Regions from separate parts of the Homo sapiens genome. Here region 1 is linked to region 2. Evidence: fine-mapped expression QTL. Tissue or cell type: whole blood. Region 2 holds a variant in brackets; the other region holds the start of a gene. All regions are shown on one strand. Distances are between the middles of the regions. Region 1 holds the start of EFHC1 (EF-hand domain containing 1). Region 2 overlaps EFHC1 (EF-hand domain containing 1).

Region 1 (16,229 bases), 30 kb before region 2:
TTCCTGTGGCCACACTCTCATGCTTGCAGAATTCTTCCCAGATTCCTCCCAGAGCATTTTTAAAGTGCCCAGAATGTTGACCTCTGCTTCTGACATAGGCTTTGAATGTTTTCTCATTCTTTGGACACTAGTTTGTACTCTGGATAATCCTCTGGGCAGAAATGACATGACATGTCTAAGGCAGAGCCTATAAATTGGGGATAATAACAGTTTACATTATCTAGTACTCACCACTTGCCAAGAACTGAGCTGAGCTGTTTTCCTAGATTCCTTCATTTAACCCTCATAGTAGCCCTGTGAGGTAGGCACTAATACTGCCTCCATTTTGCAAATGAGGAAACTGAGGCATAAAGTAAATTTGCCCACAACTACCTGGCTCTTAAGTAATGGAATCTCACAGACACTCAGGCCTTTGAATCCAGAGTCTATATTCTTAGCCACTAAAATTAAGTGAATGTAGAAGATTCTTTCCTCTAACTTCTCACATTGTCACTTGTGTGAACCATAAAAAGTTTAAAATTAAGAGGGAAGTGTAATGTAGATTTCCATCTCCCCACCCCTGATAAATGAAGTAAACCTAAGGATGCAGTTCTCATTTTATTTCTAGACACTTTAGCCAAGCAAAAGTCCTTATACTGTTATTGTCGAATGGTACCAAGGCTGAGATTCCTAAGTGTATTTTGTGCTAGAATACAACATGGCGCTACTCACATTACAATCTCAGAAGCCCTCTGTAATGACCTGAAGGATCTGAAGGACAGAAACTCACTTTAAGAACCACTGACTTCAAATTATTTTTGCATGCTTCTCTAATGTTTATAAAATGACTCTAGTGAATACTTTCTCATCTTTAGGACCTTTTAATATATCTTATTCCTCATTAAAATAAATTTGAGCATGATTCCAGGCTAAACAAATTTCTTAAAGACAGCAATGGCAACATGCAAAATATCTCCATCTAGTGTTTTCTCTTTTCTAAACAAGAACAAATTATCTTGGAATCTGACTAATTTTGCTCCAGGAAAAATACCTTTGCACACAGTACCCGGCACAAAGTTTGTGTTCGGAAAGTGCTAGTGGTAATCACACAGTCATTATTTCTTTTTCTATTTTTTTTTTTTGAGATGGAGTTTTGCTCTTGTTGCCCAGGGTGGAGTCCAGTGGCGCAATCTCAGCTCACCACAACCTTTAGCTCCCAGGTTCAGGCGATTCTGCCTCAGCCTCCCTAGTAGCTGGGATTACAGGCATGTGCCACCACGCCCCGCTAATTTTGTATTTTTAGTAGAGACCAGGTTTCTCCATGTTGGTCAGGCTGGTCTCGAACTCCCACCCTCAGGTGATTCGCCCGCCTCAGCCTCTCAAAGTGCCGAGATTACAGGTGTGAGCCACCGCACCTGGCCCACAGTCATTATTTCTATCACTTCACGCTGAGCAGGGTGTTGTGAGTTCTGCACAAATTCATCCACACTCTCCAAGGGCTCCCAGACGTCTCTCACCAGAACAGGAGCTCTCTGTCCTTGGGAGGGATTTTTCTCCACCCACAACGGAATAAGATGTAGTTCATCTTCCCTGGGAAATGGGGGATTTCTTGCTTTCCTCCACATTCCTTCCCTGACATTCAGTCTGCATGATCAAAGACTCTCTCAGGCATCAGGAAGAACCTTCCATTGGTACACACACACACCACCCAGACATTCTGGCAGCACCGCCCTTTCTCACTATGGTCCCCAAGTGTTCTCAGACTACAGAAGAAACCCTACTGGTCCACATACTCATTTTTTCTACCTTTTGATTCCCATCTATTATGTGTTTGTGTCCCTTAGATATATTGAAGTCCTAAACCCCGCTGCCTCAATTAGTGACCTTATTTGGAGACAGGGTAGTTGTACATGTAAGCAGTTAAGATGAGGTCATACTGGACAATCTCTTAATTCAATATGACTGGTGTCCATATAAGAAGAGGAGAAGACACAGAGGAAAGACAGCCATGTGAAGACACATAGACACACACAGGGGACAGCATCATGTGACAATGTAGGCAGAGATGGGAGTTATGTATCTGCAAGCTAAAGAGTGCCAAGGATTTCTGGTAATAAGCAGAAACTGGGGGATGGGGTGTGTGGGTTAGGGTGGCGGGGCAGGCAGAGAGAGAGAATGGCCTTGCCAGCACCCTGATTTCAGACTTCTAGCCTTCAGAACTGTGACAGAAAAAAAATTCTTTTTAAGCCACCCAGCTTGTGGTACTTTGTTACGATGACCCTAGAAAACTTAATACAGCATCGCAGGGCCAACCTCAGTTTTAACCTCCCTATGAAATTGACAGTTTTTTCTAACCAGTGGCTCTTGGTCTCTCAACTCAGCAAGCACAGGTAGAGAATGGGACACGAAGACCCCTCCCTTCCCCCCCATCTATACCCTATTAAAGGGAGAAATGGGATTTGCAGATCTCAGCAGAGATACAGATGGGAAGCTTATCATGTGTGTGAATACAATAGAACCTCTGTGGTAGGGAGTTAAGTACAGAGAAAATGTTGTGAACAGCCAGTTTCAGTGTGGCTGTGTTTCCCATCTGAGTCTACCCTGTGTAAGCAGGTGCTCCTGGGTTGCACCTTGGCAACTTCCCACCTGGGTCTTTGCCTCTACTCTTGGTACTCACAACCAACTCATCTACCTGCAAGCACCTTCATCTTTGGGTGCAAAGGTTTTATATTCACCGTCTGCCTCGCATTCTAGTGGTGATAAAAAAAATAGTAAACCAAACAAATAGGGAAAAGACCATGGCTCCACGGAAAGCTCCAGCCATCTAGCCTCCTCTGTGGCCCACCAGAAAGCTGTTGTGCTCTTTTCATAAACTCTACGTTGAAAAGAGATTAGATGCCCTCCTACCCTCTAAAAGGATCTGGGTGTGTGTGTGTGTGTGTCTAAAAGGATCTGGGTGTGTGTGTGTGTGTGTGTGTGTGTGTATGTGTATGTGTGTGTGTGTGTGTGTGTGTGATATTTATTCAGAGTTGGTAGGTGGGGGGTGGGTAAAAAGGAAAGAAAGACTTAACTCACACAAACCAAACCCTTCTACATGTTGCATTCTCTAAAGTGCCCAACATATTTCCCTACCCCCCTTTTCTCCTTTCTTTTTACCTTAATCTGTCTTTAATTTTCCATAGTTTTTCCAATTCCCAGTCACTGACCAAACTGTCCATTCACCATGCTCCCCCAGACAATGGTAATAGCAAACAGTCAGTGAGCGCTTACTATGTGCCAGGCACTACAGTAAGTGCTAACATATATGAACTCATTTAATGCTCACAACAACCTTGTGAATTGGGAATAACAATTATTATTCCTGTTTATGGCTATTAAAAGGTTAAGAAACTTCTGCAGGGTCACAGAGCTGGTAAGTGGTAGGATTTGCAACTCTGCAGTCTGACTCTGCAGTCCATAATATTTTATTTTTATTTTTTTATTACGAAAAACCTTGAGCATATACAAAAGTAGATAGAATTGTATGATGAATTCCCATGTAATCACATACACAATTATCAAATCATGGGGAATCTAGTTTCATCTACATCCCTACTCACTTGCTTCTGTCCATATTATTTTGGACATTATATAATTATATAATATATACTATCTCATATATTATATAAGATATTATATAATATCTATAATTTTATAGATGTTATATAATTTTTCCTACAATACATGCTTTTTATGTATCCTTAAAAGATGAAGACTCTTTACACAAGAATACAATATCATTATCATGTCTAAAAAACTGAAGAACAATTCCTTACCATCAAATATCCTGTGTTTGAATTCCCAATGGTCTCACAAATGTGATAATTATTTCAAAGTATTTAGTTTAAATCAGGATCCCAATAGGACCCACACATTGCAATTGGTTGACTTTTTACTTAAATCTCTTTCTAATTTATAGGTTTCCCTTCTACCCCAGTCTTTTTACTCCTTTCCAATTCAGTTGTTGGCCAAACAATCATTTGTCCTGGAGAGTTTCCTACAGTCCACTCACTTTACCGCTACATCATTCTGCCTTTGGGGTACTATATTGTAGACTTTTCATTCCATAGATTTTAAAGAGGGGAAAACTCAATGAAGTGATTTCTAGACTCACTGGAGCTTTCATGAACTACATGAAATTATAAGTACATGTGAATGTGTGCATTTTAGGGAACCAAAGTCTAAAGCTTTTACAAGATTTTAAAAATGATCCCATGACCCTCAAACAATTAATGGTCATTAGCTCTGGTCCTGGCTTTTCATTTTAGAGATGAAAAGCAGGAGACTTGGATAGGTAAATTGTCCAAACTCACACAAATATTCTTAACAGGACAGGAATGTGGCTCTCAGGACCTAACCTGTTCTACTTTCTGTTTCATGCTGCATATGTGAAAGGGGAAAAGGAAAGTGGTTTGAGATGCTCAATAGAAGGTGTCAATTTCCCTATTGTTTCAAAGTTGCCATTTACCTGAATTAATGAATTCACTTCTTGTCCACATTTGGAATCTAAAACTCTAGTCAATGTTACTACCACAACATTCTCACACTTCTCTTTCTCCGTACTATTGAGAGCTTTATTATGCCAGAGATGTCTCACAAGCAGGATGCCAAGATCAATGATCTGTCCTGAGCTAAATGAGGACTGTCTTTCCTAGATGTCAGAGGATTGAGGTGGAGTGTAAGAAATACTCAATTGGGAACCAGTCATTAATTGATAGTTCCTTGATCTCTTTTGGTCTGGAGATTTCTCATTAGTAAAATGAGCTAACCGGACTGTGTCAATTACTTTTCAAGCATTTTGACTGTGATCATGATATACTCTCACTATGAATGTATATGTATGTATATATCTTGAAAAAACTTTCACTGAATTATTCTTACAAACAAAATGGAATGCATCTGGATAGTTTCTATTCTATTCTTTTTTAAAAATAATTCTCGTTGTGGTCACAACCTATTAAGTTGATTTGAAGAACTGCTAAAGGAAATCTGCAGCAGTTTGAAAAATACTTTCCCACGTGACCGCTGAGTCATTCATTCATTAACTGTAGTAGGTCAGTAATTTTCCAACTATTTAATGGACATCTATGTAGTGCTAGGCACTGTGATGAGAGTTAGGAAAATGGCAATGAAAAAATGAAGACCATCTTCTTATGACGCTTATATCCTGTGAAGTATGTTCCATCAGCTTTGACAAGGAAAGAGAATTCCAACGGAATCAGCTAAAGCTATTGAATAGGTTTGACTTAAGGGAGGAAAAAGCAGCAGAAATACAGGTTTTTCCAAACCCCAGGCAGGAGCCCACATCAAGACTAAAATAGTCTAGACCCAAATGATGTAATTTTTGTGTCAAATGAAGATCTCCTGTGGATCCTAAATCTAATCACTGGATGTTTCTCCTTTTCCCATACTTTGCAAAGATCGAAGTGGATGACTGGGCCCTCTTTTTAGATAAAATATTTCAGAGGCCATGGAGTGATGGAAAGGAATGCTAGAGAGCACTCTGACTGAGGGACACCCCCTGGCCATATTCACGTGCTCACCACACCCCCAAGTACCTGCAAAACCTGCAGGTATGTAATTGGTTGTTTTCTTTTCCAGAAATTTTGCTGTACCATTTTTACCCAGCAGAGGGAAGCAGAACACCAAATCACTGCAGAAGTAATCCAGGACACATGCACACACAGCCCTTTGGTATTTTTTGTCCTGTGAATTTAGGTATTATAGAATGAGAATGTCACAGTTTTGAAAACAAATTCTGGGTAAAGTCAGCTCTGGGCAAAATGCTGAAAGAGGAGAGGTTTATTTTAGCTGACTGCTTATGGCCTGTCCCATCAGGATTGCCTGGAAGACATTACCCAGCCCACAAGGCCCTCTTTCAGGCTTGGCTCCTGGCAGTCTGACCTTTCAATTTTTTTCCATTCCCCAAGTTTTGGAACACCTGCTAAAATCATGCAATATTTCTGTGGTCTTCTGAGTCAGGCTTTATGCAATGGCCTTTCAATCATGGCATTTCCTACTTTAGCTGCCAGGAATGGTCAGTTTCCTGCCCTCTTTTATATATTCCACTAAGTGGGAAATGGTGGGTACAAACTGAAGTGCAATGCATGCTAAGTGGTCATGTAGACTGGAGTGCAGTGGCATGATCTCTGTTCACTGCAACCTCTGCCTCCCCGGTTCAAGCGATTCTCCTGCCTCAGCCTCCTGAGTAGCTGGGACTACAGGCATGTGCCACCACGTCCAGCTAATTTTTGTATTTTTAGTAGAGATGGGGTTTCGCCAGGCTGGTCTCAAAATCTTGGCCTCAAGTGATTTGCCCACCTTGGCCTCCCAAAGTGCTGGGGTTACGGGCATGAGCCACTGCACCCGACTGGGATACAAACTCTTAATCACAGCAGACCTTCTGAGGATCCAGGTACCTTTCTGAAGCCCTGCCTTTCCTCCCGCCCCACTTCTTTACAGACTTGTCCCTGTGCCTTTTAACACTAATGCAGTACGTCTGACTTCCCCTCCTCAGAGATGATAGCATTTTTAGGAGGCCATAGACCAACAGAAGTTGTCTTCATGCATTTCTGGGGTCCGAAAGTAGTTAAAACACACCCCTTAGCCATTTAACTGGCGTGCTTTTCTGGAAAGAAAGGCATGAGCAGAGGGCACTCCTCAAATAGAAACAGATGCGATAATGGACAATAGGCTTAGGCATGACTCAGCCTTTCCAGCTCCACACGCTCCTTCCCTACCCAACCCAGGAATATAGATCCAAGTGCAACCATGCACTTAGTCAAGAAGAGCTCTTCAAAGTGTGTCCTAATGCCATGAAATTTACTTTTAATAAGAGAGTGGGTAGGGAGGGATCATGGAACTTCTAACAGTTTAAGGTTATCATGAAGAGTCAGCAAAAATTACAGTAACCAGTGATTCTGGGTAATCAGCGTCAATGAGGTGGAGAGAAGTGGGAGAGGTGCCTTATCTTTGAAAGGTTAAACTTGCCATCTTTTTTTTTTTTTTTCCTTTTTTTGAGACGGAGTTTTGCTCTTGTTGCCCAGGCTGGAGTGCAATGGCGCGATCTCGGCTCACTGCAACCTCTACCTCCCGGGTTCAAGCGATTCTCGTGCCTCAGCCTCCCAAGTAGCTGGGATTACAGGCATGCGCCCCCATGCCCAGCTAATTTTGTATTTTTAGTAGAGGTGGGGTTTCACTATGTTGTCCAGGCTGGTCTCAAACTCTGACCTCAGGCGATCCACCCGCCTCGGCCTCCCAAAGTGCTGGGATTACAGGCGTGAGCCACCGCACCCAGCAAACTTGCCATCTTGACATATTCCTCCAGTGACTGGCATCCATCCTCAGTTGGTGTCTAAGGTATAATACAACGGACAGGTACTTTAAAAGTTTTCAGTAACTTCCACAATGCTAACCAATGTTTGAGGAATATGATTACATTTATTTTTTTAAAAAATAAGCAAGTTTTGTAAAAAGCACCAAAGGCAAAAAAACTTCATTGAAGTTTTTAAAAAATGTATTAAACTGCTGCATTAAGGTAATGTACTTACAGAAAAAGAAAAAGAGGTTTAAAAAAGGACAAGAACAGGAAACAGATGTAGTAAGGGGAGAAGAGTTAGAAAGGAAACTCTCTGGGCAGGGTATGGTAAGCAGGCATCAATAACTGCCTCAGGTGCCACTTAATGCATTCATGTCCTGGGCCTCCTGAGCGTCACACAAATTAGTGAAACCCAACAGGGGGATTTGCTCTGACAAGCAGCAATAAAAGTAAAGCTGCTGTCTGTATTGGCAGTAAACTACCTGTGACACTGAGATATGCCTTCTGTGTCTGGCTTATTACTCTATCATGTTCCTAAACTGGCTTGTCACAAACGCCTGTTACAAAAATCAGATTCCTGGCCTCCATGTCAGACCTAATGAATCCAAATCTCTCGGCACGTGGGTTTTGATTACTTTTTATTTTTAAGCTCCTCAGCAATGATGGATAGCTTTCTCCCCCCCCCCCCAAAAAAAATGTTTCAGGAATAGGATTATGTTTCTTTTAAGAAAAAATAATTTAAGCAAGTTTTGTAAAAAGCATCAAAGGCTATACCTATGATGCTGACAATATTTCACCTCACTTATCTGCTTCTTTCCCAAGACTTAGTCTTTCTCTTTGAAGGAGCTGTGTTCCTCCTAGTGGTTCTGATCTTTTTCATTGCAGCTGCAGGTACAAACGAGGGATTGAGGTGACCACCCTTCAACCTGCAGCTCTTCAGTCAACAAAAATCAAGTACCTATCAGAGTGCACCCTGCCCTGCAGCACATATTCAAGGCTTTCCCTACAAAAACAAAGGTGTTTAACCGAAGGGATTGATGGTAGAATAAAGAGAGCTGGGCGCGGTGGCTCATGCCTGTAATCCCAGCACTTTGGGAGGCGAGGTGGGCGGATCGCTTGACCCCAGGAATTCGAGACCAGCTTGGGCAACATAGTGGGACACTATCTCTACGGAAGGAGGGAAGTAGGGAAGGAAGGAAGGAAGCAAGGAGGGAAGGAGGGACGGAGGGAAGGAGGGAAGGAAGGAAGGAAAAAGAAAAGAAAGGAAAGAAAGAAAGGAAAGAAAGAAAGAGAAAGATTGATTTTAAAAAAGAGTTAAAAGGGGAAAAATACAATGTGGCAGTGGGAGAATTAAGGATGAGATGATTGCATTAGTTCATTGACCATCCCTGAGCAACAGAAACACAATCATGGGTAATCCTCGGCCCCTGCCTACAAGAAGCATGGGTCTAGTTTAGTAGCACTGCCAACTGGACCGACCATTTACACTTCTGTGTGAAATGGGGCAGAGGGGGGAGAAAAGAGTGCCTGAGCTCACAGCGTTGGCGGGGCGCAGTGAGGTCCGCCAGGACTAGGTGGAAGGAGAGAAGGAACGTCCCTCTCTGCAACTCATCTAAGGGCCTGCTCGGACCCCGGATCTCACAGCGAGAACTACCGCCTCGCTACACCCGCCTTTCCCCGCGCCACCCAACAGCTCCCACGTCTCATCCTCCGGGAGCGGGGCGGGGCGAAGCGGAAGAGGAGGGGCCGACACAACCACGCCCACTAGCCGCGCTCCAAGGCCGCGGCCCACTTACCGCGAGAACGCGGAGTCCTGCGGATGGCGCACGCGCAAACCTCCTGTGATGCCTGCGCCTCCTGGCCCCGCCTTCCGCTCGTGGGAGTTCCGGATGTTTAGCGTTACCATGGATCCTGGAGGTGCCCGCGAACACTGCTTGTCGCCTGGGCAACCGGAGAGGACGAAGCAGGACCTAGGTGGCGGCGGTGGTACCGGCTGCAATGGTGTCCAATCCCGTGCATGGCTTGCCCTTTCTTCCGGGCACGTCCTTTAAGGACTCTACGGTGAGCAGTTATCTGCCAGACTCCCACCTGTCCCCACCTTCCAGCAGCCCAGGAGGTTTCCCCGCTCAGTGCACCTCCATTCCCCTCCACTCAAGTCTGTCTTCTCTCCAAACACGTCTTCTGTCCTGACCCTGTTCTTTATTCTGGGCCGAACTTCTGCCGTTCTTCCCTAGCCATCCTCATCCCCTCTCTCCGATCCTTTGCCCTCCGCCTCATCCCTCTCTAGTTTTTTCCCACTCCATCTTGGCAGTGTGTTGGCGCCTTCATTCTCATCCCGTTAGCCGCGTTCTTTCTTACGGCCCTGCTCCTCCAAGCCCCTGCCTCTTGTCCCTTTAGATCACTGTTTCCCCCACCCTACTCCCAACCTATCTCTGGGCCCTCTCCCTAGCTCGTTCTCTCACATCATAACCTGTCTCCGTCCATCGCCGCCCTTAAAACCCCCCGCCACTATGCACCTTCAACCTCATTCCCACAGGTCCGTCATTCCCGCCCCACCTCTTCCTCTTCTGAATCCTGTACCCGGTAGTATCTCCCACTCCCAGCTCCATTTCCTGTTTTGTATGTATATCGATTCCGCTCCTCTTCTTTCCGCCAGGTCTTTTTCCTTTCTTCTTTATGCTTGCATCCAACCCCATTCTTTTTTCTCCATCTTCTACATTTTCCACAATTTAGTCCCATCCTCTCCCCATTCCTTTCTTTCTCCGTTGCGGGTTTTCCCCAAAACTTGCTCACCTTCCTCCCAAAGCATCTTTCCCTGCTTTGTAAGAGATATTCCTTTCCAGTTCCCTCAAGAATTGATTAGTTGCTGTTTATTCTTCCCCGGCCCTGTTCTTTTTATTCTAACGTTTTTGTAAAAAGATTCCTGTTTAGATTTTGTTTTGCTCCTTCCCCAACCTTGTGTTTTTATTTGCATTTTCTAGACAAAATTTTTTAAAAAGTAGCAGCAGCTTGGATTCTTTTTTTTTTTTAAACTCTTGCCACAGTTTAGCTCTTAAAATTATTTGGTTTGTTTTAATTCTGACAGGGCTACTGAAATGTATGTGCTGAAAAATCAATAATGAGATTCAGTAGACTGATCATCATAGATGAGCTAACAGTAGTTTATGTTTATATAGTTTAATACTTTAAACTCTTGCCTTCCTCTCCAGCTTCACAAAGTTAAAATATTTTGTCAATTTATTTTCTTTGGAAGAATCAATTTAGAATGAAATCGAAAGTTTGGTGAGAGAATTTGTATTCTGAATCTCTGTAATTATCCCTGCATTAAGACACAACATCATAGATTTTTAGTTTCAGTGGACTTTTCAGTTTTATGTAATTTAGAAAATGTTGTAGGCACTTGCCTGCCCTATACAGGATGAGCTTAAGCTTTTGGTGTTGGTGAGTATAGACAGGGCTGAGTTGATACAGGGAATTACAGAGGTGTGGATGGAAGTGCAAAGCTCTAAAAACATATTGCTGTATTACAAGTAAGAAGAACTGTGCATTGGACATATTTCAGATTTTAAATACACTGGCCAAGTGTCAACCAATTTGCCCTATTTGAAATTTGAAAAGCATCGTCAGTATATCTTCAGCAGTGAAGGACTGAATATGTATTAATGTAATTCTAAAGACATGCAGATAAGAAGTTAAAAAATTTTTAAAGGGGAGTGGGAAAACGATTTTAAAAAAAGACACACAGAAGGTGAACCATAATGGACAAGAGGGGTGGAAAGGGCCGAGGTTGCCTTGCCTGGGGTGTCTGTGAGTTATGGCTGAATGATGGTAGAGACATTTGTCTAAAACAAAGAAATAAACTGAAGTCACTGATGTTGCTTCTGTCTTTGGTGGTGGAAGAAGAGCTTGAAGTTCCATAAATTACCCAATGAGGATGTCAACTCAGCGCATTTTGTTCTATGTCATGTTTACTATATACCTGGAGCAGTCCCTGTCAACTGACTTGTGACTCTGAATACATGACCTTTAAAAACAAATGTCATACATTTGTTTTTATGGGTTATATACAGTTTATAACCCTTTTAGCAAAAGAAGTTTATTCTGTTGTACCTTTCATGTTAGTACAGATCTTGAAAGATGGTAGGCTGGGCTCTAAAGCAATTAGGATGTAGAAAGTTTTTTTCATAAAAATATTTTTTATGATTAATCTTAAATTGTATCTATGTATATATTTGAATATTATAGATAAGTAATTGTGAAAGTATCCTCACAACAGAAAAAGGAAACCATTAACATAACCTCTAATTTGCCTTTCTACTCTTTTTTATTTAATCTTTTAAATAAAAATGTGTTCATTGTAAAAAATCAACATAATTTAGAAATGTATAATACAGAGGACCAAACCAGTCTCTTCATGCACATATTTCCATGCTTATAATTGCAGTACACATATAATTTTATATGTTGCTTTTTCAGGCTTATTAAATCATAAATATTTTCACCAGGTTGCCACGTGATCTCTAAAATCAATATTTTAATGACAGCACCATAATCCATTGAGTGAGTTTTCGATCATTTACTCATGTCTTCATATGACTGTCTTTTAGATTGTCTTCAACATTTACCATTGTAATGGGCAGCTTCAGGCATATAGTTCTTTCTCATAATTCTGAATCATATTCGTAAATAAATGGTCGGGGTAGAATTATTGAGTTCAAGACTTTAAATATATACCATCCAGTTGCTTTCCAAAGAGTTGTAAGAATGTATCACTGTCATTGTGACAAGAGGGACAGGTAAAAATAAATTCATTCCATGTAAAAATAAAATTCACAGAACCGTATCTTCTAGGTTCTACAGTTTTTACGGCCCCAGATATCAGATGAAAAACATGAGAAGACTAGTGAAAAACTTAAGAGTATAGATGAGATACTCTTTTAATCTCTCATGCAAGGTGAATTGGTAGTTAAATTGGGCATTACAGAGCACAGCTTTAAATTTTACTTTAAGCTTAGGTGGCTACTTCGCTCCTTGTTCTTGTTCAAGTGTTTTAACTTAAAATACAGAATCTTTTAATGTAGGTAAGCTTTTGTTTTGTTTTGTTTTTTTGAGACAGAGTCTCACTGTTGCCCAGGCTGGAGTGCAGTGGTTCAATCATAGCTTATTGCAGCTTGGACCTCCCAGGCTCAAGTGATCCTTCCACCTCAGCCGACTATAATAGGCACAAGCCACCACACCCAGCTAATTTTTTTTTTTTTTTTTTTTTTTTTTTAGTTTTTGTAGAGACAGCATCTTGTTGCCCAGGCTGGTCTCGAACTCTGGGGCTGAAGTGATTCTCCCTCTTCAGCCTCCCAGAGTTCTGGGATTATAGGCACGAGCCACCATGCCCAGCCTTAATGTTGGTAAGCTTCTTGATGTAAGTTTTGTGATGCTTATAAGCAAAGATTCAAGTTATATTTTTAAAAGTTAGTTTTTTTTTTACCTAACAAATATTTGTCTAATGTTATTAATGACACATTCTTTTCTTCTTCAGAAAACAGCCTTCCACAGAAGTCAGACGCTGAGCTACAGGAACGGCTATGCAATTGTTCGACGTCCAACAGTTGGGATAGGCGGAGACCGGCTCCAGTTCAACCAGCTGTCCCAGGCTGAGCTGGATGAGTTGGCCAGTAAGGCACCAGTCTTAACTTATGGCCAACCTAAACAAGCCCCACCTGCGGATTTTATTCCTGCGCATGTGGCCTTTGACAAAAAGGTATCATCTGGAATTTTAGGGTACCCCTTGAATTAGGGTCTGAGAGCCAACTGCTTGCAAAAAAGTTAAAACAGTAAACCACAGAATTTCCAAAGGGCTCTGAGGAGAAAATTGTTCAGATGCCTTAACCCTTAGTCATGGACAGCTGAACTCAGGCTAAAAAGAGGCTTTCTTTAGTCAGGAAGCTGATTACAGGGAGTAAAGTAGTTCCCTGTAGACTTCACCAGACTATTTTCCAAATGCAGTTAAAGAAAAGTTGGCTATAATTCTGAATTCTTGAATTTATATTCTATGTTTATCAGCCGTGTGTTCTCCACTTTTTAAAGGTAACTGTATTCTGTAATGGTGACATATCTAATCTTCATGAGATGCAGAATATCATTATGAAAACAATGACTCCATCTATTGTCAGTTTTCTGCAAGGCAGTCTCCATAAGTTTTTGGTTTTCAGGGAACATTTCATGTTTGATATTACATAACCAATGGGTGGTATAACATTTTTGTTTGTTTCTCATTTATCTTTATGTTTTTGCAATGTGAGTTTCCTCATTTCCATCTATTGACATTACCACATCATTCTTGTTTTTCCTTGTCAATGAGCCTCCTCTTTTCACTAAAGTGAAGTAGCCCTAGCCCTGACCATGTAGCAGAATCACTGGCGAGATTTTTAAGAAAGTTACGTTATTCCAACCCTCATCAGTTCTAATTTCCAGATGAGCTTTATGTGTAACTGGTTCTGAGAAGTACTGATCAGTTTTGATAAGTTAGCTTTCTTAATTTACTCTTAGTCTGTTTCTTTTCTTGTCTTAATTTTTATTTTATTATTCCTGTTAAATGTCTATAACATTTTCATCCAGCCAGCCAACTTTTATTGAGTACCTGTTGTAAGCTAGAGGCTGGGGAGGAGCTATGCCATTTACATGATAGTCACTTATTTTTAAACAATTTCAGTCTCTCAACTAGAATCTGTATCATTTCCTCTTCCCCACTTAACTCATTTATAGGGACACATTCACATATGCATTCATAGGCCGAACCTAAACATCCACTAAACAGTATGATTTATATAATTGGATGTATCTTTTCCTTTTGCTTGTTTCTTTTGTTTATTTGTGGCTTTGACAGACATTGCAAAATCAGCAGAGAAGGGAGAGGGCTGAAAATACAAGAGAGAAGTGGGATAGGCACTAAATAATTACCAAGATATGAATCCTGGTATGTTTAATTTTTACTGAAAAGAATAGTAAGTAACTGTTATAAAGTAGAAGGTGATAAAGTGATATATGTCGTAAGAAAGTATTAGTAAAATTCAGAGGAGAAATTGCGCTTGAGTAGGAAATAGGCTTCCTATTTTTTGTTTTCTATGTTATTTTACACTAATTGTTGTTACTTAATTTGTACTTATTTAATATTCATAATTCATTTCTTTAAGGATAGTGCACATAAAAATATTATTTTTATTTTCCAATTCATTTTACTTGGATCATCACAATTTCTAGATAAATGAGCCTTAGCATAGATAATGGGGTAGAGAGAAGCTAAATGCATGACTTTGAAACTAAGTTTGTTTGTTTATAATAAGGGAATTATGGTTTCTCTGAATTAAATGAAGGTTCTAATTTTAAATGAAGGACCTCTAATACCCAGAGGTCCACATAATAGCCAACATATTTGTCTATATTTTGGAAATTCTTAGGACTGTTCCTCATAGACAGAATATAACTTCATTTCTTACTTAGGTAATAAAGACCAGGACATCTATTCCAAGTGCCCTCATCTTTTCCCCTTGCTCCTGTATAATTCCAGCATCACCTACTATATTGTGTTTCCCAGACTGACTTCCAGCTCTTTATTTCTGATGTTCTTCTTTCATCTTTTTCATCTTCAAGTTTCATATTATTTCTATTTCAGACACTCTAGTGACTGCTTCTCTAGCTAGAGTCATATCATCCTGTCCTCTTTCTATAATACCTTGTGATGCCTTTAAGCAAGATAACTTTGTTTCTCACTTGACTGTCAAATCACTTACAATCTGACTTCTCCCTACCCACAGCCCCAGAATACTTTCTCCTAGGTAGCCAGTGCTGTCCTTTTACCAGATCTAGAGAGGTTTACTTTGCCAGCATTGTCTTTGGCTTGTTTATGCCATCTGACACTGTTGACCCTTCCTCCCTTCTTGAAACTGTGCTCTTCTTTTGCCTCCATGACTCTCATTTTCCTCCTTCTTTCTATGTGGTTGCTTATTCTTTAGCCTCCCTTCCTCTTTTCAATTCTTAACTTACAAGTATTTTCAAGGCTCTATCTCATTCTTTATATAATTTTCTTGAGATCTCACCCACTTTCGTGATTTCAACCGTCACCTCACCGTAGAGAATGTCACTATTTAGTTCCAACTCTGACATCATTGAGACTCCAGATCTGTATCCCCCTGGCCCATGGGATATCTTCACCTGGATGAACTGTTGGTACCTCAAGTTCTGTATGTCTCTAACTTATCTCTATCCCTCACCTTTTCCCATAGATCTGCTTTCCCTGTGTGGTTCCACTAGGTAATCCAAGCTTGAAACCTGAGCCATCTTTGGCTTTTTCTCTCCTTTATCCTCCACACTTAATGAGTTGCCAAGTCAAATATCTCTCACTTTCATTTCCTCTGCCACTATCATAGTTCAGACAAGCCAAATGACTACCTAACTGTTGTTTTAGTCTCATTCCTAGTCCTTATGCTTATAACAGGTATGCTGCCTTGTTTATTCTCTAGAGTTCAGCTCTGATTATGTCATTTTTCTGGGAAAATGCCATCAGGCTTTCTTAACCAATACAGTAAACATTACCACCATTCACCTCACTGTGACATGAAAGTCATCTTTCATTCTTCTTTCCCCTCACAATCCACATCTAATCTATTAGCAAGTTCTATTGTTTCTGCTTCTAAAATATGTAACTAATTCATTTACTTATTTTCATCCTCACTATTACCATAAATTTATTTTCCACAGAGCAGCCAGGCTTATTTTTTGAAAATCAGATTATGTCACATACTGACTGAAACACTTCCATGGCTTCCCTATCATCTATAAAGATCCAACTCTACAGGTTCCTCACAGCCCTACTGGAGCTGGCCCTCCCTGCTCTCTCCCC
Region 2 (16,229 bases):
TTTTCTCCACAACCTTGACAGCACCTGTTATTTTTTTACTTTTTAATAATAGCCATTCTGACTGGTGTGAGATGATATTTCATTGTGGTTTTGATTTGCATTTCTCTAATGATAGTGATGTTGAGCTTTTTTTTCATATGGTTATTGGCCATGTGTATGTCTTCTTTTGAGAAGTGTCTGTTCATGTCCTTTGCCCACTTTTTAATGGGGTTCTTTGCTTTTTTTCTTGTAAATTAAAGTTTCTTATAGATGGTGCATATTGGACCTTTGTCAGATGCATAGTTTGCAAATATTTCTTTCCCATTCTTTAGATAGTCTTTTTACTCTGTTGATGCTTTCTTTTGCTCTGCGGAAGCTCTTACGTTTAATTAGATACCATTTGTCAATTTTTGCTTTTGTTGTGATTGCTTTTGGTGTCTTTGTCATGAAATCTTTGCCCATTCCTATGTTTAGAATAGTGTTGCCTTGGTTGTCTTCCAGGGTGTTTATAGTTTTGGGTTTTACATTTAAGTCTTTTATCTATCTTGAGTTGATTTTTATATCTGGTGTAAGATATATGGCTAGCATATGGCTAGCAGGTTATCCCAGCACCTTTCCCCATTGCTTATTTTTGTCAACTTTGTTGAAGATCACATAATTATAGGTGTGTAGCCTTATTTCTGAGCTCCCTATTCTATTCCATTGGTCTATGTGTCTGTTTTTGTACCAGTACTGTACTGTTTTGGTTACTGTAGCCCTGTAGTATAGTTTGAAGGCAGGTAACATGATGCCTCCAGCTTTGTTCTTTTGCTTAGAATTGCCTTGACTATTCAGGCTCTTTTTGGGTACCATTGAATTTTAAAGTATTTTTTTCTAGTTCTGTGAAGAGTGTCACTGGCAATTTGATAGGAATAGCATTGAATCTGTACATTGCTTTGGGCAGTATGGTGACTGTAAAGATATTGATTTTTCGTATCCATGAGCATGTAATGTTTTTTCATTTGCTTGTGTTATCTCTGATTTCCTTAAGCAGTGTTTTGTAATTCTCATTGTAGAGATCTTTCATCTCCCTGGTTAGCTGTATTCCTAGGTATCTTATTCTTTTTGTGACAGTTGTAAATGGGATTGTGTTCCTGATTTTACTCTCAGCTTGGCTGTTGTTGGTGTATAGGAGTGCTAGTGATTTTTGTATGTTGATTTTGTGTCCTAAAATTTTGCCGAAGTTGTTTATTAACTTAAGGAGTTTTTGGGATGAGGCTCTGGAGTTTTCTAGATATAGAATCATGTTTTCTCCAAACAGGGATAGTTTGACTTTCTCTCTTCCTACTTGGATGTCCTTCATTTCTTTCTCTTGACTGATTGTTCTGGCCAAGACTTCCAATATTGTCTTGGATAGAAGTTGTGGAAGAGGGCATCCTTTTCTTGTGTCAGTTTTCAAGAGGAATGCTTCCAGCTTTTCCCTGTTCAATATAATGTTGGCTGTGGGTTTTTCATAGATGGCTCTGATTATTTTGAGGTGTGTTCCTTTAATACCTAGTTTATTTATTTATTTATTTTATTATTATACTTTAAGTTATGGGGTACATGCGCACAACGTGCAGGTTTGTTGCATATGTATACATGTGCCATGTTGGTGTGCTGTACCCATTAATTTGTCATTCAATTAGGTATATCTCCTAGTGGTATCCCTCCCCACACCCCCCACCCTATGACAGGCCCCAGTATGTGATGTTCCCCACCCTGTGTCCAAGTGTTCTCATTGTTCAATTCCCACCTATGAGTGAGAATATGCAGTGTTTGGTTTTCTGTCCTTGCGATAGTTTGCTCAGAATGATGGTTTCCAGCTTCATCCATGTCCCTACAAAGGACATGAGCTCATCATTTTTTATGGCTGCATAGTATTCCATGGTGTATATGTGCCACATTTTCTTAATCCAGTCTATCATTGTTGGACATTTGGGTTGGTTCCAAGTCTTTGCTATTGTGAATAGTGCCGCAATAAACATATGTGTGCATGTGACTTTATAGCAGCATGATTTATAATCCTTTGGGTATATGCCCAGTAATGGGATGGCTGGGTCATATGGTATTTCTTGTTCTGGATCCTTGAGGAATCACCACACTGTCTTCCACAATGGTTGAATTAGTTTACATTCCCACCAACAGTGTAAAAGCATTCCTATTTCTCCACATCCTCTCCAGCACCTGTTGTTTCCTGACTTTTTAATGATCTCCATGCTAACTGGCATGAGATGTGTGGTTTTGATTTGCATTTCTCTGATGGCCAGTGATGATGAGCATTTTTTCACGTATCTGTTGGCTGCATAAATGTCTTCTTTTGAGAAGTGTCTGTTCATATCCTTCGCCCACTTTTTGATGGGGTTGTTTTATTTTTTCTTGTAAATTTGTTTAAGTTCTTTGTAGATTCTGGATATTAGCCCTTTGTCAGATGGGTAGATTGTAAAAATTTTCTCCCATTCTGTAGGTTGCCTGTTCACTCAGATGGTAGTTTATTTTGCTGTGCAGAAGCTCTTTAGTTTAATTACATCCCATTGGTCAATTTTGGCTTTTGTTGCCATTGCTTTTGGTGTTTTAGTCATGAAGTCCTTGCCCATGCCTATGTCCTGAATGGTATTACCTAGGTTTTCTTCTAGGGTGTTTATGGTTTTAGGTCTAACATTTAAGTCTTTAATCCATCTTGAATTAATTTTTGTATAAGGTGTAAGGAAGGGATCCAGTTTCAGCTTTCTACATATGGCTAGCCAGTTTTCCCAGCACCATTTATTAAATAGGGAATCCTTTCCCCATTGCTTGTTTTTCTCAGGTTTGTCAAAGATCAGATGGTTGTAGATGTGTGGTATTATTTCCGAGGGCTCTGTTCTGTTCCATTGGTCTATATCTCTGTTTTGGTACCAGTACCATGTTGTTTTGGTTACTGTAGCCTTGTACTATAGTTTGAAGTCAGGTAGCGTGATGCCTCCAGCTTTGTTCTTTTGGCTTAGGATTGTCTTGGCAATGCAGACTCTTTTTTGGTTCCATATGAACTTTAAAGTAATTTTTTCCAATTCTGTGAAGAAAGTCATTGGTAGCTTGATGGGGATGGCATTGAGTCTATAAATTACCTTGTGCAGTATGGCCATTTTCACAATATTGATTCTTCCTACCCATGAGTATGGAATGTTCTTCCATTTGTTTGTGTCCTCTTTTATTTCATTGAGCAGTGGTTTGTAGTTCTCCTTGAAGAGGTCCTTCATGTCCCTTGTAAGTTGGATTCCTAGGCATTTTATTCTCTTTGAAGCAATTGTGAATGGGAGTTCACTCATGATTTGGCTCTCTGTTTGTCTGTTATTGGTGTATAAGAATGCTTGTGATTTTCGCACATTGATTTTGTATCCTGAGACTTTGCTGAAGTTGCTTATCAGCTTAAGGAGATTTTGGGCTGAGAGGATAGGGTTTTCTAAATATACAATCATGTCATCTGCAAACAGGAACAATTTGACTTCCTCTTTTCCTAATTGAATACCCTTTATTTCTTTCTCTTGCCTGATTGCCCTGGCCAGAACTTCCAACACTCTGTTGAATAGGAGTGGTGAGAGAGGGCATCCCTGTCTTGTGCCAGTTTTCAAAGGGAATGCTTCCAGTTTTTGCCCATTCAGTATGATATTGGCTGTGGGTTTGTCATAAATAGCTCTTATTATTTTGAGATATGTCCCATCAATACCTAGTTTATTGAGAGGTTTTAGCATGAAGGACTGTTGAATTTTGTCAAAGGCCTTTTCTGCATCTATTGAGATAATCACGTGGTTTTTGTCTTTGGTTCCGTTTATATGATGGATTCCATTTATTGATTCGTGTATGTTGAACCAGCCTTGCATCCAAGGGAGGAAGCCAACTTGATCGTGGTGGATAGGCTTTTTGATGTGCTGCTGGATTCGGTTTGCCAGTATTTTATGGAGGATTTTTGCATCGATGTTTATCAGGGATATTGGTCTAAAATTCTCTTTTTTTGTTGTGTCTCTGCCAGGTTTTGGTATCAGGATGATGTTGGCCTCATAAAATGAATTAGGGAGGATTCCCTCTTTTTCTATTGATTGGAATAGTTTCAGAAAGAATGGTACTAGCTCCTCTTTGTACCTCTGGTAGAATTCGGGTGTGAATCTGTCTGGTCCTGGACTGTTTTTGGTTGGTAGGCTATTAATTATTGCCTCAATTTCAGAACCTGTTATTGGTCTATTCAGGGATTCAACTTCTTCCCAGTTTAGTGTTGGGAGGGTGTGTGTGTCCAGGAATTTATCCATTTCCTCTAGATTTTCCAGTTTTTTTTTTTTTTGGTGTAGAGGTGTTTATAGTATTTTCTGATGGTAGGTTGTATTTCTGTGGGATCGATGGTGATATCCCCTTTATCATTTTTTATTGCATCTATTTGATTCTTCTCTCTTTTCTTCTTTATTAGTCTTGCTAGCGGTCTATCAGTTTTGTTGATCTTTTCAAAAAACCAGCTCCTGGATTCATTGATTTTTTTTTTTGGTTTTTTAATTAATTAATTTATTTATTTTTTTATTATTATACTTTAAGTTTTAGGGTACATGTGCACATTGTGCAGGTTAGTTACATACGTATACATGTGCCATGCTAGTGTGCTGCACCCACTAACTTGTCGTCTAGCATTAGGTATATCTCCCAATGCTGTCCCTCCCCCCTCCCCCTACCCCGCAGCAGTCCCCAGAGTGTGATGTTCCCCTTCCTGTGTCCATGTGATCTCATTGGGATTCATTGATTTTTTGAAGGGTTTTTTGTGTCTCTATCTCCTTCAGTTCTGCTCTGTTCTTAGTTATTTCTTGCCTTCTGCTAGCTTTTGAATGTGTTTGCTCTTGCTTCTCTGGTTCTTTTAATTGTGATGTTAGGGTGTCAATTTTAGATCTTACCTGCTTTCTCTTGTGGGCATTTAGTGCTATAAATTTCCTTCTACACACTGCTTTAAATGTGTCCCAGAGATTCTGGTATGTTGTGTCTTTGTTCTCATTGGTTTCAAAGAACATCTTTATTTCTGCCTTCATTTTGTCATGTACCCAGTAGTCATTCAGGAGCAGGTTGTTCAATTTCCATGTAGTTGAGTGGTTTTGAGTGAGTTTCTTAATCCTGAGTTCTAGTTTGATTGCACTGTGGTCTGAGAGACAGTTTTATATAATTTCTGTTCTTTTACATTTGCTGAGGAGTGCTTTACTTCCAACTATGTGGTCAATTTTGGAATAAGTGCGATGTGGTGCTGAGAAGAATGTATATTCTGTTGATTTGGGGTGGAGAGTTCTGTAGATGTCTATTAGGTCTGCTTGGGGCAGAGCTGAGTTAAATTCCTGGTTATCCTTATTAACTTTCTGTCTTGTTGATCTGTCTAATGTTGACAGTGGGGTGTTAAAGTCTCCCATTATTATTGTATGGGAGTCTAAGTCTCTTTGTATGTCACTAAGGACTTGCTTTATGAATCTGGGTGCTCCTGTATTGGGTGCATATATATTTAGGATAGTTAGTTCTTCTTGTTGAATTGATCCCTTTACCATTATGTAACGACATTCTTTGTCTCTTTTGATCTTTCTTGGTTTAAAGTCTGTTTTATCAGAGACTAGGATTGCAACCCCTGCTTTTTTTTGTTTTCCATTTGCTTGGTAGATCTTCTGCCATCCCTTTATTTTGAGCCTGTGTGTGTCTCTGCACGTCAGATGGGTCTCCTGAATACAGCACACTGATGGGTCTTGAGTCTTTATCCAATTTGCCAGTCTGTGTCTTTTAATTGGAGCATTTAGTTCATTTACATTTAAGGTTAATATTGTTAAGTGTGAATTTGATCCTGTCATTATGATGTTAGATGGTTATTTTGCTCATTAGTTGATGCAGTTTCTTCCTAGCATTGATGGTTTTTACAATTTGGCATGTTTTTGCAGTGGCTGGTACCGGTTGTTCCTTTCCATGTTTAGTGCTTCCTTCAGGAGTTCTTTTAGGGCAGGCCTGGTGGTGACAAAATCTGTCAGCATTTGTTTGTCTATAAAGGATTTTATTTCTCCTTCACTTATGAAGCTTAGTTTGGCTGGATATGAAATTCTGGATTGAAAATTCTTTTCTTTAAGAATGTTGATTATTGGCCCCCACTCTCTTCTGGCTTGTAGAGTTTCTGCCGAGAGATCCGCTGTTGGTCTGAATGGCTTCACTTTGTGGGTAACCCGAACTTTCTCTCTGGCTGCCCTTAACATTTTTTTCCTTCATTTCAACTTTGGTGAATCTGACAATTATGTGCCTTGGAGTTGCTCTTCTCAAGGAGTATCTTTGTGGCATTCTCTGTATTTCCTGAATTTGAATGTTAGCCTGCCTCACTAGTTTGGGGAAGTTCTCTTGGATAATATCCTGCAGAATGTTTTCCAACTTGGTTACATTCTCCCCATCACTTTCAGGTACACCAGTCAGACGTAGATTTGGTCTTTTCACATAGTTCCATATTTCTTGGAGGCTTTGTTCATTTCTTTTTACTCTTTTTTCTCTAAACTTCTCTTCTCACTTCATTTCATTCATTTGATCTTCAATCACTGATACCCTTTCTTCCACTTGATCTAATCGGCTACTGAAGCTTATGCATGCATCACATAGTTCTCATGCCATGGTTTTCAGCTCCATCAGGTCATGTAAGGACTTTTCTACACTGTTTATTCTAGTTAGCCATTCGTCTAATCTTTTTTTCAAGGTTTTTAGCTTCTTTGCGATGGGTTCGAACATCCTCCTTTAGCTCGGAGAAGTTTGTTATTACTGATTGTCTGAAGCCTTTTTCTCTCAATTCATCAAAGTCATTCTGCATCCAGCTTTGTTCCATTGCTGGCGAGGAGCTGCGTTCCTTTGGAGGAGAAGAGGCACTCTGATTTTTAGAATTTTTAGCTTTTCTGCTCTGGTTTCTCCCCATGTTTGTGGTTTTATCTACCTTTGGTCTTTGATGATGGTGACGTACAGATAGGTTTTTGGTGTGGATGTCCTTTCTGTTTGTTAGTTTTCCTTCTAACAGTCAGGACCCTCAGCTGCAGGTCTGTTGGAGTCTGCTGGAGGTCCACTTCAGACCCTGTTTGCCTGGGTATCACCAGTGGAGGCTGCAGAACAGTGAATATTGCTGAACAGCAGATGTTGCTGCCTGATCCTTCCTCTGGAAGCTTCGTCTCAGAGGGGCACCTGGCTGTATGAGGTGTCAGTTGGCCCCTACTGGGAGGTGTCTCCCAGTTAGGCTACTTGGGGGTCAGGGACCCACTTGAGGAGGCAGTCTGTCCGTTCTCAGATCTCAAACTTCGTGCTGGGAGAACCACTACTCTCTTCAAAGCTGTCAGACAGGGACGTTTAAGTCTGCAGAAGTTTCTGCTGCCTTTTGTTCAGCTATGCCCTGCCCTCAGAGGTGGAGTCTACAGAGGCAGGCAGGCCTCCTTGAGGTGCCATGGGCTCCACCCAGTTCGAGCTTCCCAGCTGCTTTGTTTAGCTGCTCAAGCCTCAGCAATGGCGGATGCCCCTCCACCAGCCTCGCTGCCGCCTTGCAGTTCAATCTCACGCTGCTGTGCTAGCAGTGAGAGAGGCTCTGTGGGTGTGGGACCCTCTGAGCCAGGTGCGGGATATAATCTCCTGGTGTGCCATTTGCTAAGGCCATTGGAAAAGTGCAGTATTAGGGTGGGAGTGTCCTGTTTTTCCAGATACTGTCTGTCACAGCTTCCCTTTGCTAGGAAAGGGAATTCCCCGACCCCTTGTGCTTCCCAGATGAGGCAATGCCCTGCCCTGCTCCGTGGGCTGCACCCACTGTCTGACAAACCCCAGTGAGATGAACCCAGTACCTCAGTTGGTAATGCAGAAATCACCCGTCTTCTGCGTTGCTCATGCTGGGAGCTTCAGACTGGAGCTGTTCCTGTTCGGCCATCCTGGAACCTCTCCTACCTAGTTTATTGAGAGTTTTTCTCATTAAGGGATATTGAATTTTACCCAAAGTCTTTTATATAGCTATTGAGATAATTATGTGGTTTCTGTCTCTAGTTTTGTTTATGTGATGAATCACATTTATTGATTTGTGTATGTTGAACCAACTTTGCATGCTGGAAATGAAGCCTACTTGATTGTGGTGGATTACCTTTTTGATGTGCTTCTGGATTCAGTTTGCAGATATTTTGTTGAGGATATTTGCATTGATGTTCATCAAATATATTGGCCTGAAGTTTTCTTTTTCTGTTGTGTCTCTGCCAGGTTTTGGTATCAGAATGATGCTGGCCTCATAGAATGAGTTAGGGAGGAATCCCTCCTCCTCAACTTTTTGGAATATTTTCTGTAGGAACAGTACCAGCTCTTGGCTGGGTGCGGTGGCTCA[C/T]GCCTGTAATCCCAGCACTTTGGGAGGCTGAGGCGGGTGGATCATGAGGTCGGGAGATCGAGACCATCCTGGCTAACACAGTGAAACCCCATCTCTACTAAAAATACAAAAAATTAGCCAGGCGTGGTGGCAGGCGCCTGTAGTCCCAGCTACTCGGGGCTGAGGCAGGAGAATGGCGTGAACCCAGGAGACAGAGCTTGCAATGAGCCGAGATTGTGCCACTGCACTCCAGTCTGGGCGACAGAGCAAGACTCCATCTCAAAAAAAAAAAAAAAAATAGTACCAGCTCTTCTTTGTATATCTGATAGAATTCAGCTGTGAATCCCTCTGGCCCTGGGCCTTTTTTGGTTCATAGGCTATTGATTACTGATTCATTTTCAGAGCTTGTTATCAGTCTGTTCAGGGAATCAGTTTCTTCCTAGTTCAGTCTTGGGTGAGTGTATGTGTCCAGGAATTTATCCATCTCTTCTAGGTTTTCTAGTGTTGTGCATACAAGTGTTCATAATATTCTCTGATGGTTGCTTATAATTCTGTGGGGTCAGTGGTAACATCCCCTTTGTTGTTTCTAATTGTGTTTATTTAGATCTTCTCTCTTCTACATTAGTCTAGCTAGTGGCCTATCTTTTTAATAAAAACCAACTCCTGGATTCATTGATCTTTTGAATGGTTTTTTGTGTCTTGATTTCCTTCAGTTCAGCTCTGATTTTGGTTATTCCTTGTCTTCTGCTAGCTTTGAGGTTGATTTGCTCTTGCTTCTGTAGTTCTTTCAGTTGTGATATTAGGTTGTTAATTTGAGATGTAACTTTTTGACATCGGCATTTAGTGCTATAAATTTCCGTCTTAATACTGCCTTAGCTGTGTCCCAGAGATTCTGGTATGTCATATCTTTGTTCCATTACTTTCAAAGAAATTCTTGATTTCTGCCTTAATTTCATTATTTACCCAAAAGTCATTCAGGAGCAGGTTGTTTAATGTCCATGTAATTGCATGGTTTTGAGTGGTTTTTTTAGTTTTGACTTCTATTTTTATTATGCTGTCATCTGGGAGTGTGTTTGCTATGATTTTGGTTCTTTTGCATTTCCTGAGAATTGTTTTCTGTTTGATTATGTGGTCGATTTTAGAATATGTGCCATGTGGTGATGAGAATAACGTATACTCTGTTGTTTTTGGGTGGAAGGTTCTGTAGAGGTAGGTCACATCCATTTGGTCCAATGTTGAGTTAGGTCCTGAATATCTTTGTTAATTTTCTGCCTCAATGATCTGTTTAATACTGTCAGGGAAGTTTTAAAGTCTCCCACTGCTGTTGTATGGGAGTCCAAGTCTCATTGTAGATATCTAAGAACTTGCTTTATGAATCTGGGTGTTCCTGTATTGGGTGCATATGTATTTAGCATAGTTAGTTTTTTTTGTTGAGTTGGATCCTTTACCATTATACAGTGCCCTTCTTTGTCTTTTTTGATCTTTGGTGGTTTAAAGTCTGTTTTGTCTGAAATTAGGACTGCAACCCCTGCTTTTTTCTATTTTCCATCTGCTTGGTAGATTTTCTTCTATCCCTTTATTTTGAACCTTTGGGTGTCATTGCGTGTGAGATAGGTCTCTTGAAGACAGCATACCATTGGGTCTTCCTTTTTTATCTAGCTTGTTATTCTGCATTGTGGTTTTTTTGTTTGTTTGTTTGTTTTGTTTGTTTGTTTTTGAGACAGAATCTCACTTTGTCACCCAGGTTGGCGTGCAGTGGCGTGCTCTCAGCTCACTGCAAACTCTGCCTCCCAGGCTCAAGTGATTCTCCTGCCTCAGCCTCCCGAGTAGCTGGGATTACAGGTGTGTACCACCATGCCTGGCTAATTTTTGTATTTTTTAGCAGAGACTGGGTTTCACCATGTTGGCCAGGCTGGTCCTAAACTCCTGACCTCAAGTGATCCACCCACCTCTGCCTCCCAAAGTACTGGGATTACAGGCATGAGCCACCATGCCTGGCCTCTGTGCCTTTTAAATGGGGCCTTTAGCCCATTTATAATTAAGATTAGTGTTGATATGTGTAGATTTGATCCTGTCATTGTGTTGTTAGCTGGTTATTATGCTGGTTTGTTTGTGTGGTTGCTTTATAGTGTCACTGGTCTGTGTACTTGTGTGTTTTGTATTGGCTGGTAATGGCCTTTTCTTTCCATATTTAGTGCTCCTTTTAAGATCTCTTGTAAGGCAGGTCTGGTGGTAATGAACTCTGTCAGCATTTGCTTATCAGAAAAGGATCTTATTTCTCCTTTGCTAAGAAGCTTAGTTTGGCTAGATATGAAATTCTTGGTTGAAGATTTTTCTTCTTTAAGAATGTTGAATATAGGCCCCCAATCTCTTCTGGCTTATAGGGTTTCAGCTGAGAAGTCCAGTGTTAGCCTGATGGGGTTCCCTTTGTACGTGACCTGCCCTTTCTCTGTAGCTGCTTTTAACATTCTTTCTTTCATTTTGACCTTGGAAAATCTGATGATTATGTGGCTTGGGGATGATCTCCTTGCATAGAATCTTGCAGGGATTCTTTGTATTTCCTTAATTTGATTGTTGGCCTCTCTAGCGAGGTTGAGGAGGTTTTTGTGGACAATATCCTGAAATATGTTTTCCAAGTTGTTTGCTTTCTCACTGTCCCTTTCAGGAATGTCTGGTGAAATTTGAGCACTTGGTTTGTCTTTCCTATTTTGCTAACACGTTTTCTGGTCTAATATAACCAGTGGGTATGCTTTCTTTTTTTTCTTTTTTGGTGAGGGGAAGGGACTTAATCATATACAGTATTTGTTTTAAGTGAATTAGAAAATTGGGAATATGATTTCAGCCTAACTTGGCCATTGTGCATCTTGCCTCCAGACCTAATAGGAATTACATATTGTTTGAAACCATGGTTAGGTTCCAGATATATGAAAGTAAGCAATCCTAAGACTTACTCTGTTACAGGCACCTAACTAAATTTGATTGATTTAAATTATTTGAAAACAGTTATTTTGCCATTGTGCCTCCCAACTAGCTTAGCAAATACCTAGCAATATAACAATATAAAATACTTCAGGTAACTCTCAATTATTACCTGCATTATGGAGTTGGCTCAGTTGGAGACTTAATACAGCTTACATGCGCTCAAGCAGCAAACTAATGTTTAACTTAAGCAATGGCATAGAAATCATTATTACACTTTTTCTTTCTTTTTTTCTTTATTTGAGGCGGGGTCTTGCTGTGACGCAGGCTGGAGTGCAGTGTCATGATCATGGCTCACTGCAGCCTTGACCTCCTGAGCTCAAGCAGTCTACTCACTTCAGCCTCCTGAGTAGCCTGGACTGCAGGCAAATGCCATCAAACCAGTCTAACTTTTAAATGTTTTTGTAGAAACAGGGTCTCACTATGTTGCTCAGGCTGATTGTGAACTCCTGCGTTTCAGGAGTCCTCCTACCTCAGCCTCCCAAAGTGCTGAGATTGTAGGCCTGAGCCACAGTGCCTGGCCCATACACTTATTTTTATATAATCAGTTTATAACTTACTCTGAAAAGCTCCAAGAAAGATGATCATTGTTAACTTTCAATTATTTAGGTATTTTTAGAAAGCCAAGGAATTGAGTTAAATCCACCAGAGAAGATGGCTCTTGATCCTTACACTGAACTCCGAAAACAGCCTCTTCGTAAGTATGTCACCCCATCAGACTTTGATCAACTCAAGCAATTTCTCACCTTTGACAAACAGGTAAGTGACATAGGAACCACAATAGGCTTACTTATTTCCAAATGTGACCTACATTTATTGGCAAAAGGTTTGGGTAGCTGTATTGGTAACTATTTTGAAACATTACAGCTATAATTGAACTGTTTGGACACAGTACTGTCTTTCTGCTTTCATCAAGGGTTACAGGTACAGGAATGCCTACATTTCATATGGAGATCCAAAGAAGATCGTGGAGTTGCGGAGTTGTTTTGTGAACCTCACCAAACATTTAAATCTCAAAGCAATTCCTGAGCTACATCTGCTTCCCACCTTACGTTTCCAATTGACAATTTCTTTCCCTTAAAATGAGCTAATTTCATAGACTCCTTTGTGAAACCATAAATCGATTATTAGGAAATTTCACAAATATGCATACATGTAGGTTGTAATGTTAAAATGTTTAATTTCACAGAAGCCCCACTACAGATGCTTCCTTGTTAAATGTTATATTAATATTGGAGTCCAGAATGTTCTGAGCATTTTCCAACTCTGTTCCAACCTTCCTAATCCTCTCCCTTGTGAGCTGATGTGTATAAGCAGATTTAAATCCTTCCCTTTCTGTACTAAAGGGAGAAAGAAAAGGAAGAGATCACCCTCAGTGCTTCTTTGCTGCTCCTTTTCTTTAGACATTTAACCCCTTTTAGTTCAGAAAATGTAAACTAGCACTAGCATGGTCTTTTAAGGATTTTGTTCATATCAGTCATATATCTGTTATTATTTTGTATTTAAAGATTGTGTTTATTCCCACGATTTGAAGAAGCCTAGCCAAAAAAAAAAAAAAAAAGATTGTGTTTATATTATTGCTAGAAGATATGTGTTGATGGGACCAAAAAAAGACTGGTTAATAAATAAAAATTTTTTCTACACTAATTATATATAAACCATATTCACATGTACCTTTATTAATATATATATACCACTATGTAAAGAACTTCATTGCTCTTTTAATTTAGCTTCTCTTTCACTGACTAATATTTTGGATCAAAGTGAGCTCTTCTTTTTTGGCACAAACTTATAATCCTATTATTTAATTCTTTCCAGCTGCTGACATATAGTACATAATTTCAGATGTTTTAGTATGTTTGATGAATATTTCTTTTTTTTTCAATTTACCCCATCTGAAATTACTTCATAGTCTTTCCAGCTAGTCTTTCCATCGTTGATACATAATTGCCAAAGTAGCCAAGTTGAACTCCCTACTTTTAGGATTCTTGAGTCACTACTTTGGATTCTTCAAAGGTCCTTCGATTCTATGCAATCTGGGATGATACAGACAGCATGTATGGTGAATGTCGGACCTACATCATTCATTACTATCTTATGGATGATACGGTGGAAATTCGAGAGGTCCACGAACGGAATGATGGGAGAGATCCTTTCCCACTCCTAATGAACCGCCAGCGTGTGCCCAAAGTTTTGGTGGAAAATGCAAGTATGTTTGATTCAGTTTATTCTCTGTTACTTGGGATGTTTTTAGGTTCTTAAAGGAGTTACTTAATCAGTATGCAAAATTCGTTTATACTTGGAAGCCTCTAGCTATTTTTGCTTAGATGCTCAGAAAATGGCTTCCCACAGCTTTCCTCCTTTACTTGCCCCTCGGTCCAGGCGTGCCCCCAAGACAGTCTGGTACCCAGGTCAAGGAAACAAAACCAAAACAACAGTGGGAGATTTATTTAAAGTGCAGCAGAGCAAGGTTTCTGAACTGAAACAATTTAATATTAGATTTTTAATGCATTTTTCAAACAGGCTTGTTTTCATTCAAGGATATGAATGAAAGCTTAGCTTTTCTTTATATGCTTTCCTGACTTTGCTTCTCACTTCAACTACTTCCTAAACAGGAAGTTTCTATGTGGTTTAACTTGAGATTGGAAAAGGCATGTCTGTGACTCATAGAGGTGAGGTCCATTGTGTCAAACCCAGCTCATTCTTTACTGGTTTAAAATTACCTAGCATGGGCTGGGCATGATGGCTCACTCCTGTAATCCCAGCACTTTGGGAGACTGAGGCGGGTGGATTGCTTGAGCCCAAGAGTTTGAGACCAGCCTGGGCAACGTGATGAAACCTCCTCTCTACAAAAAATACAAAAATTAGCCATGCTTGGTGCCGCACACCTGTATTCCCAGCTACTTGGGAGGCTGAGGTGGGAGGATCATCTGAGCCTGGGAGGTCGAGGCTGCGGTGAGCTGTGATTGTGGTGCTGCACTCCAGCCTGGGCAACAGTGAGATCCTATCTCCAGAAAAAGAAAAAAAGTTACCTACCATATTTGAGAGTGGCAGTGCAACAAAATGGCAGCAAATACCTGCTGTTCACTGTTTCCTGGGATGAGTAGGCTTGCTTTAGTTATTGTCTTAGTAGTTTTTACATTTCTCTTAGAATAATGTCATCTTGGTCACATGTAATGACTGATAGCTCTTATGTTTGGGTGGCTGACAGGATTCTGTAAATGTGTTCACTGATTTTTTTTTCTTTTTACTATATTTTTTGGGAATTAGGATATAAGAAATTTCAGGTATTGGGGCTGGGCACGGTGGCTCACACCTGTAATCCCAGCACTTTGGGAGGCCAAGGCAGGTGGATCATGAAGTCAGGAGATCGAGACCATTCTAGCTAACATGGTGAAACCCCATCTCTACTAAAAATACAAAAAATTAGCTGGGCGTGGTGGCGTGCACCTGTAGTCCCAGCTACTCAGGAGGCTGAGGCAGGAGAATTGTTTGAACCCGGGAGGTGGAGGTTGTGGCGAGCCAAGATCGTGCCACTGCACTCCAGCCTGGGTGACAGAGTGAGACTCCATCTCAAAAAAAAAAAGAAAAAGAAATTTCAGGTATTGAGCAAGAAGTTTGTCTACATTAGAGGTTATAAATAAATGTGTAGTCTGAGGCTAAATTCAACGTGTCTGTACATATTGCTTCACTTGCACAGTGCTTTTTTATGAAAAATGCAGTATTATTTGTGGGCAAGGAGTTGGAGGTTTCCATCATTGAGAGAATGGATAAGCAAAAATGTAGTGAAGGTACATTTTGATTAATATACAGTAGTTAGAAGCAGTAAACAAGATGTACACAGAAAGCAAGTGGATGGATCTTAAAAACATAGTGCTGTGTAGGAAAAAATACATGAAATTAGATATATAATGCTATAACACATGCAAAACATAGTACACGTAGGACACATTCAGTCACATAGCTGCATTAGAATGATTGCATGTGAGGAGAGGAGAATGAGATTGGGGAAAAGGATAAAAGGGAGTGAAAATTGTCATCATTTTAGAATTAGGAAAGTTTATGTTATATATTTTTTTAAAAAAATGAAAATACTGCTAATTCAGCTTGTATTCTCAAATAGAAACAACTGGATCTGTGCCCTAGTTCAACATAGTTTGGCTTCTACCTACTATACATATTCTTATAATCAGTTCTCTACAGAACCGTCTTAGAGTTCAATGACAATGGGACTAATATAGTAATTTTGGCCTTTCAGAATGCTTAAACAAGCCTGAAATCCATGCAGTTCGGAGCTAACAAACATTAGATTTACAATAGATAAAGAAAATGGATAGGAATATATTCAGGGTGGCATGAAAAGTCTCACTGAAACTAAATCCCTTTAAATGACAGATTCCAGGTTTGTCTCTGCTTTATCAATGTGACCTATATTGAAAACTTAATATATAATTATCCTCTTCTATAATTTCCCAATTAAAAATTTTTTATCAAAGTTGCATGGAGAGGCAGCCTGGTGGCATATATAGGGTTCTTTTAAAAAGTAGGAAACAGGCTGGTCGCTGTGGCCGAAGCCTATAATCCCGTCACTTTGGGAGGCCAAGGTGGGAGGATCACCTGAAGTCAGGAGTTCGAGACCAGTCTGGCCAACATGGTGAAACCCCCTCTCTACTAAAAAATACAAAAATTACCTGGGCATGGTGGCAGGTGCCTGTAGTCCCAGCTACTTAGGAGGCTGAGGCAGGAGAATTGCTTGAAGCCAGGAGACAGAGGCTGCAGTGAGCGGAGATTGCGCCACTTCACTCCAGCCTGGGCAACAGAGCAAGACTCCATCTCAAAAAAAGAAAAAAGGTATCAGTCATGAGGTACAGAAAAGGCTATGTTCCCATCAGCTACATAATTCCTTTAACTAGAAGGGTAG

What was found. PIP is the estimated chance that this variant, and not a neighbour inherited with it, causes the effect.
Region 1: EFHC1 starts here. The variant in region 2 is fine-mapped to the expression of EFHC1 in whole blood (TOPMed, PIP above 0.99).

What each region holds. Positions count from the first base shown.
Region 1 is chr6:52,411,077-52,427,305 of GRCh38, forward strand. EFHC1 (EF-hand domain containing 1) reads left to right here and starts at 9,266. Exons shown (of 11, transcript NM_018100.4): 1 at 9,266-9,397; 2 at 12,870-13,091. The coding sequence starts at 9,335. LOC124901331 (a long non-coding RNA gene) reads right to left here and starts at 9,905. Exons shown (of 2, transcript XR_007059611.1): 1 at 9,133-9,905; 2 at 6,824-7,372. RefSeq lists a silencer at 5,515-5,809 and an enhancer at 9,235-9,826.
Region 2 is chr6:52,440,771-52,456,999 of GRCh38, forward strand. EFHC1 (EF-hand domain containing 1) reads left to right here. Exons shown (of 11, transcript NM_018100.4): 4 at 11,918-12,067; 5 at 13,325-13,517. Among named protein-coding and RNA genes, the nearest start is that of EFHC1, 29 kb to the left of the region's middle. The variant C/T (reference allele first, on the strand shown) is at 8,351.